Linked DNA regions of Homo sapiens. The protein of the gene in region 1 interacts with the protein of each later gene in a pairwise test. Each region holds a gene or a part of one and is shown on either strand. Other genes may lie near its edges. The genes, in order: SETD5 and DPPA2.

Evidence for each region.
Region 2: the proteins of SETD5 (region 1) and DPPA2 interact in a two-hybrid assay, tested with the Homo sapiens proteins (one large-scale study listed by BioGRID and IntAct).

The regions. Positions count from the first base shown.
Region 1 is NC_000003.12:9,473,808-9,477,626, forward strand, and holds part of SETD5 (histone-lysine N-methyltransferase SETD5), read left to right. Parts: intron 1-641; coding exon 642-775; intron 776-1,260; coding exon 1,261-1,349; intron 1,350-1,492; coding exon of another isoform or gene 1,493-1,516; exon of another isoform or gene 1,517-1,675; coding exon 1,676-2,284; 3' UTR 2,285-3,819.
Region 2 is NC_000003.12:109,302,971-109,306,789, reverse strand, and holds part of DPPA2 (developmental pluripotency-associated protein 2), read left to right. Parts: intron 1-2,119; coding exon 2,120-2,315; intron 2,316-3,819. UniProt on the Homo sapiens protein: Binds to target gene promoters, including NKX2-5 and SYCE1, but not GATA4, and may be involved in the maintenance of the active epigenetic status of these genes.

The DNA.
Region 1 (3,819 bases):
GGGCACTAACACTGCCTTTCCTATTTCTCATTTCACATGAAAGGTGAGTCAAGAATCCAGCCAAGTTCCACATGAATTAACAACAGATGTCTCTCTTCCACACAGCTAGCATATACAGAGCAAAAAGACATTCTGAAAGGATTTGTCTGGTTTAGGGGAGACCACAAATTTAAAAATGAATAATACTGGTGGCAAATACTGAGGATCAAATGTGTGAAATAGAGAATGAAGCACAGGAGTTCAGGGATCTTGAACTGAAAAAAATAAGTCTGGGAAAGAACAGTCCTGGCTCAAATGTTTCATGTTCATTAATCTATGAAACCTTTATTAAACCAGTACTGTGTATCAGGCACATGATTTCCTAAAGGAGAAATTTTAACATTTTAAATGGGGGTTAAGGGAAGTTAACATCTTTAACCCACTTTTTCCTTGATTTCTTTTTCTTTAAAAGTGGTTGTTGTTGATGTTTCTCTTTTGTGCCTGACATAGTTGGAGGCAGAGGAAATACGTTGTTTTAAATTGGTTCTGAAGAAAGTAATGTTTAAGAGGATGTTTTAAGAAAATACACTGTGCACTGGTTAGGGCTTCATTTGTTTTGGTTAAGTCCTGTGGCTTGAACTTGCACCCTGTTGCCTTTACAGGATGGTTCCCACATCAGTAGAACGACTCCGAGAAGGAGGGAGCATCCCCAAGGTCCTCCGAAGCAGCGTGAGGGTGGCCCAAAAGGGAGAGCCCTCTCCCACATGGGAGAGTAACATCACAGAGAAAGACTCAGGTGAGCCCATGGCCTTCTGCTGCCACCACATTCAGGGACACATGAGCCGAGTCCTGTACAGTTCATGCCTAGTGCTGAGTTGAGGTGAGTCAGTTTCTGATGCAGTTGGGCTCCACCGCATGCTAGGTTCCAGCCCACTTATGCTCATTTGGGCTACCACATTTGTAAGATCTAGCATTGCTTGCTCTCTGTCTGCTCTTTTTTCCCCAAGGAATACCTTTCTGTAACTCTCATCTCTCCAAAGTCCTGGAAATCTACCTCGATGAAGGATGAAGAGAAAGAAGACGGGAATCACATCAGGCATTTAGAACATAGCCCATAATTAACCACTCATTTTGCCCTTCTGGCATGCTGCACTCACCCAATTTGTCACAAAGAGAGCAGTACGGGTTGGTGATGGCACTGGTGATTTAAATGAAAAATGGCTCTTTCTTACTTATTCTAAGAAGCCAAGTTGATTTTTTTTTATATATGTTACCTTCCAGACCCTGCAGATGGAGAAGGCCCAGAGACATTAAGCTCAGCACTCTCTAAAGGAGCAACAGTTTACAGCCCTTCCAGATACAGCTACCAGGTGAGATGAGAAATTGCTGGTCTCTAGCCATAGGAGTGTGTTCTGGGTCCCAAATTGTCCTGGTCATCCTTTGCCATTGAGATGCTGTCTTTGCATATAGTTTCAGCAGCCTTGGAAATAAGTCATCATCTGCTTGTCCTCAGGTAATAAATTATGCCAGAAGATGAATACGGTGATCAAAGACAGACATTTTACTGCCTTTGGTTTCCTAAAAAGAATACATGGTTAAAAGATGAAGAAAAAAGAATGTAGGGTATTATAAATGTTCACCAGCCATTTAAGGGACTTGTTCGCGTCCTTATTCGTTTCCTCCCAACTTTGTCTAGCTCCTGCAGTGTGATAGTCCTCGGACAGAATCACAAAGCCTCCTTCAGCAGAGTTCCTCCCCCTTCAGAGGACATCCTACACAGTCTCCAGGATACAGTTATCGAACTACTGCACTGAGACCTGGAAACCCCCCCTCTCACGGTTCTTCAGAATCATCCCTCTCTTCCACGTCCTATTCCAGCCCCGCCCACCCTGTGTCCACAGACTCGTTGGCCCCATTTACGGGGACACCAGGGTATTTTAGCAGCCAGCCACATTCTGGAAACAGCACTGGCAGCAATCTTCCAAGGAGGAGCTGCCCTTCTAGTGCTGCTAGCCCTACCCTGCAGGGACCCTCAGACTCGCCAACCTCAGATTCAGTTTCTCAGTCCAGCACAGGAACTCTGAGTTCCACCTCCTTTCCTCAGAACTCTAGGTCGTCATTGCCATCAGACTTACGGACTATCAGTCTGCCCAGTGCTGGGCAGTCAGCTGTCTACCAGGCCTCCAGGGTATCTGCGGTTTCCAATTCACAGCACTACCCACACCGTGGGAGTGGGGGTGTGCACCAGTACCGACTCCAGCCACTGCAAGGGTCAGGAGTCAAGACTCAGACGGGACTTTCCTAGGGCTTCTGGATTTGGGCAAACAGAACTGAATGAGCCCATAGCTGCTTCCTTCCAGCTGCCTCTGGAACCTAGGCCGAGCATATTGCTGAGGAACGGGGGGTACAAGGTGCCAGAGGATTGGGTCTGGTGGACAAGAAACAAGACTTGTGGTCACAATTGGCCTCTGGCCTTGGAGAAAGCTGTAAATCTTGTCTGAAGCAGAGACTATAAAGAAGTTTCTCCCTGCTGTCAAGGGTACATTGTTGACAAGCAAATGGTGTTTCGGTTAGTAACGGTTCTAAGTGCAATGAGTTGTGTTGAAGCCTCCGTCTCCCATCCTTGCCTGTAGCCCGTAGTCACTTGTGCAGTGAGGACATCTTTTTAAATTTAAAAAAAAAAAAAAAAAAAGTTTTCAAAGGAAAAAAAGTTAAAAGAGCCAATCTCAAAGCCCCAAGCCATCTGAGTACTGTTAGGGTTTTATGCACTTAAGAAAAAAGGTAGGTATGTAAATGTTCATCCTAAGACAACCATTCCAAAAGCAGGTATCTGGCCAATGTGTGTCCACCAAGAATACTGTTTATCTTTGTCTTAAGATCACCAAGAAATAGGCAAGGATAGTAAAGCTTGGAACCTGCACCAACTGGAGGGTGCCTGGCTCTTTGAAGAAAAGCTCATGGTCAGCTCTTGATTATTCGGGAGCAGATTATTTGAGTAGATTGTCTGAGCCTCCAACTGTTACCATCCTACTCCCCCTTCCCAAGCTATTTCACAGCTCAGTAACCCATGAAGTAAGTAGACAAGAAAAGGAGGAATGAGACATGATATAGGCCAATTGCATTGCTACTTACCAGCTTTTGGCAATAAATTTCATTAGGAAGGATACCGAGTGGTTTGGGAATGCTTCGAATTTTATTTTTTCTACTCCCAATTAATCAGGAGTTGATGATCCCATGAGCAGGACCGCCTCCATGATTGGGGAGCATGCACTTGTGACTGCAGGGTAAGAGTGGGAAGATAGGTTTGTGGAGTGGCACCGACAGGACTGTGATTGTGTGTGGGCCTGCCCCACATTTCTCTGGGGGATGCTTATGTGAGAGTGGGCCCAGTGAAAGAGTTACCAAGCCACCCACACCCCTAACACTGTTCTGGATGAGAGATGAGAGCAGACCGGCTTCTCCCCATCAGTGCATTGTGCCTGTTGTACACCCCTGGAGGAGCCCTGGAGCCAGCCCAGGTGGGGTACACAATCTTTTTAAATTCCATATGGTTGCCAGCTTATTTCTTTCACTTGTTTACTGTAATATCTGGCGTGTTTTTATTTATCTAATTTTGTATTCAGTTATAACCATGGTAGGGGTAGTGAATATATGACAGGTGTAATCCCTGGTGCTGCAGTGGACCTTCTTTTCTTTTGGACAAGATAATACTGTGAGTTTCCCTCCTTCCTTCCCTCTAATTTGTTTTCCTTTTTTCCCCAGCCTCTTGCATCCCCTTCTTTTCTACCCTGTCCTACAACTATCATATGCACAGTCTTCTCTCTTTGTGTGTGACTGTTA
Region 2 (3,819 bases), about 100 Mb from region 1:
TTCTCCATGTTGGTCAGGCTGGTCTCGAACTCCCAACCTCAGGTGATCCACCTGCCTTGGCCTCCTAAAGTGCTGGGATTACAGGCGTGAGCTACCGCGCCTGGGGCCCTCTAAGAAATCTTGAGGATAACTTAACTCCACTTTTCTCCAACTCCTGCTCTTCTTTTCTTGCTATTGCTTTTATTTCCAGGGTCTGCTATCTCAAGTCACCTTCCTTTTTGGCTTGAATCCTTTTTTTACTCCCCCATTTTCCCATTTCCAGAAGTATTCTAGATCCTATTTTATTCCAGCTAACTAGTATGGTAGGACACATTATTCATCATACAAGGAAACCAGCCAGAAGGAAGACTTGAAGTTGAAATTGGCATATCCTCTGCTCTTCAAGCTACATTCGTTTATGTGGGGACAGTGGGCACCTTTTAATAATTTGTGCAAAGGCATTGTCCAGCCATAAAGCTGTGTGCCTGGGGGCACTGCCTTCCCAAAGAGGACACCTCTTTCTAATTTTTAATAATATGCTGTATGAGTTACTATTATCCCACAGTGACTTATCATTTTATATTTCTCTTCATTCTGCAATTGTTAAGCATCTGCTGTGGTCCAGAGGTATGTCTAGCTGCTGGGTATATACTGTGCTAAACACACACATCTTCTCTTGTTTCACAGTCTAATCGGGGAGCTATCACACTACATGTACTGCTTATTTACAGATATGTAAATTCACTGTGACTGCTCCTTTCCCTCAATTTCAGACGTTCCATGAGTGTACCACTTATTTTCTTGCAAATATCCCGTCTCCTTAATTAAATTGTTCCTTACACTTTTAAACAGACACTTGTCTGTTTCCTGTAGCTGAGGCAGTACAATGTAGTGGTTAGGTAAATGGGCTGTAGGTCTTTCAGAATACTGACTTTCTCTCAATTTCAGACGTTCCATAAGAGTACTGCTTGTTTTCTTGCAAATATCACATCTCCCTACTTAAATTGTTCCTTACGCGTTTTTTTTTTTTTTTTTTGAGATGGAGTTTCACTCTTGTTGTCCAGGCTGGAGTGCAATGGCGTGATCTCAGCTCACTGCAACCTCTGCCTCCCAGGTTCAGGCGATTCTCCTGCCTCAGCCTCCTGAGTAGCTGGGATTACAGGCGCGTGCCACCACACCCAGCTAATTTTGTATTTTTAGTAGAGATGGGGTTTCGCCATGTTGGTCAGGCTGGTCTCGAACTCCTGACCTCAGGTGATCCACCCACCTATGCCTCCCAAAGTGCTGGGATTACAGGCGTAAGCCACCACGCCCAGCCTGTTCCTTACACTTTTAAACAGACGCTTGTCTGTTTCCTATAGCTGAGGCAGTACAATGTAGTGGTTAGGTAAATGGACTGTAAGTCAGTCAGAATACCTGGATCCATGACTTGGCTCTGAGTAACTTATGATATTTAACACCATAAGCTTCGTTTATCTCACCTGTGAATAAGAAATAATAAGAAAAGCAAATAGAAGGTAAATATTAATAGTGTACTTAAGAGTAAATGTATTAATACACATAAATCACCTAGCAAAATATTGGACACAAAACAAGCATTTCAAAATGGCAACCATTATTTTTTATTTTATTTTATTTTATTATTATTAGTATTATTATTTTTTGAGATGGAGTTTTGCTCTTGTCACCCAGGCTGGAGTGCAGTGGTGTGATCTCAGCTCACCACAACCTCTGCCTTCCGGGTTCAAGCTATTCTCTTGCCTCAGCCTCCCGAGTAGCTGGGATTACAGGCATGTGCCACCATGCCCAGCTAATTTTGCATTTTTAGTAGAGATGAGGTTTCTCCACATTGGTCAGGCTGGTCTCAAACTCCCCACCTTAGATGATCCTCCCGCCTCAACCTCCCAAAGTGCTGGGATTACAGGCGTGAGCCACCGCGCCTAGCCAGCAACAATTACTATTCTTTGTGTTATGTAACTTGTGAAATTAGATCATAGTGTCATGTGGTCTAGGTTTTCATGCATCTCATTCAATTGATTTGTGAGCAGAATACAAGAGCAAATTCAAGAGTGACTTGCTGAGAGGTTGTGTTGGGGTGCTATCTTGATTTTTGCTGTCTATATTTGTTTTTCCTTTCCAGGCGTCAGGTGGTGTGTGGTCCATGGCAGACTTCTCTCGGCAGACACAAAGGGTTGGGTACGCCTGCAGTTTCATGCAGGTCAGGCCTGGGTGCCTACCACTCACAGGAGGATGATTTCTCTCTTCTTGTTACCTGCCTGCATTTTCCCATCCCCAGGCATAGAAGATAATATGTTATGCCCCGACTGTGCTAAGAGGTAACCCTTATGTATCTTGTTAAGCATGGCACACAGAAAAGTAGGTGTATAGATGGATTTCTAAATAATTTAACAGTAGAAAGCAGAGGGCGAACATGCTGTCTTCTTAATTTGCCACATAGATCAGGCAAAAATAGGATGCAAGAAGAACTCACTAGTGAATTACAACTCAATAAATGTGGCTAGTTCTTTTTTTTTTTTGAGATGGAGTTTTGCTCTTCTCGCCCAGGCTGCAGTGCAGTGGCATGATCTCAGCTCACTGCAACCTCTGCCTCCTGGGTTCAAGCGATTCTCCTGCCTCAGCCTCCCGAGTCTCAGCTGGGATTACAGGCATGCACCACCACGCCCAGCTAATTTTTGTATTTTTAGTAGAGAAAGGGTTTCACCATGTTGGTCAGGCTGGTTTCAAACTCCTGACCTCATGATCCGCCCGCCTCGGCCTCCCAAAGTGCTGGGATAACAGGTGTGAGCCACCGTGCCCGGCTAATTTCTGTATTTTTAGTAGAGACAGGGTTTCAGTATGTTGGCCAGGCTGGTCTCAAGCTCCTGACCTCAGGACATCCACCCAACTCGGCCTCCCAAAGTACTGGTATTAAGGGCATGAGCCACCGTGCTGTGCCTAAATGTGGCTAGTTCTTAGCCTTAACAAAGCATCTGACAAGTCAGGACCTGATTTCTGCCTCAATTTTAGAGACTTGTTCTAAAGGAAAAAAACACACATTTGAGTTTTTAATACATGTCAGATACTCACCTTGGAATGCAAAAACAAAATCCATCTAGCCTACTCAACTAAAAATGAGTAAGAAGGCCAGGCGCGGTGGCTCATGCCTGTAATCCCAGCAGTTTGGGAGGCCGAGGCGGGCGGATCACCTGAGGTCGGGAGTTCGAGACCAGCCTGACCAATATGGAGAAACCCCGTCTCTACTAAAAATACAAAATTAGCTGGGCGTGGTGGCACATGCCTGTAATCCCAGCTACTCGGGAGACTGAGGCAGAAGAATCGCTGAACCCGGGAGGCAGAGGTTGCGGTGAGCTGAGATTGTGCCATTGCACTCCAGCCTGGGCAACAAGAGTGAAACTCCGTCTCAAAAAAAAAAAAAAAGAGTAAGAAAAGCTATGAAAATATATGGGAAGAATCTATATTGGAATAGCTTAGGGAAACTTAAGAGAAGATTACACGTTCTGAGGAAGAGCTTACCAGTTGTGGAAGTCGTCAGTACAAACACAGGGAAATAAAAAATATGATGGCCAGTTGCAGTGGCTCATGCCTGTATTCCCAGCACCTGGGGAGGCCAAGGTGGGCAGATCATCTGAGGTTAGGACTTCAAGACCAGCCTGGCCAACATGGTGAAACCCTGTTTCTACTAAAAATAAATAAAGAATATAATATATTTAGAAACTGCCAGTTAGTCAATGTGATTGAAGCTTATATTGAGAAATGAGTTTGGGGAGTGGAGGAGCAGACCATGAAAGATTTTATGTCTACATTATCCTGTAAGTCATC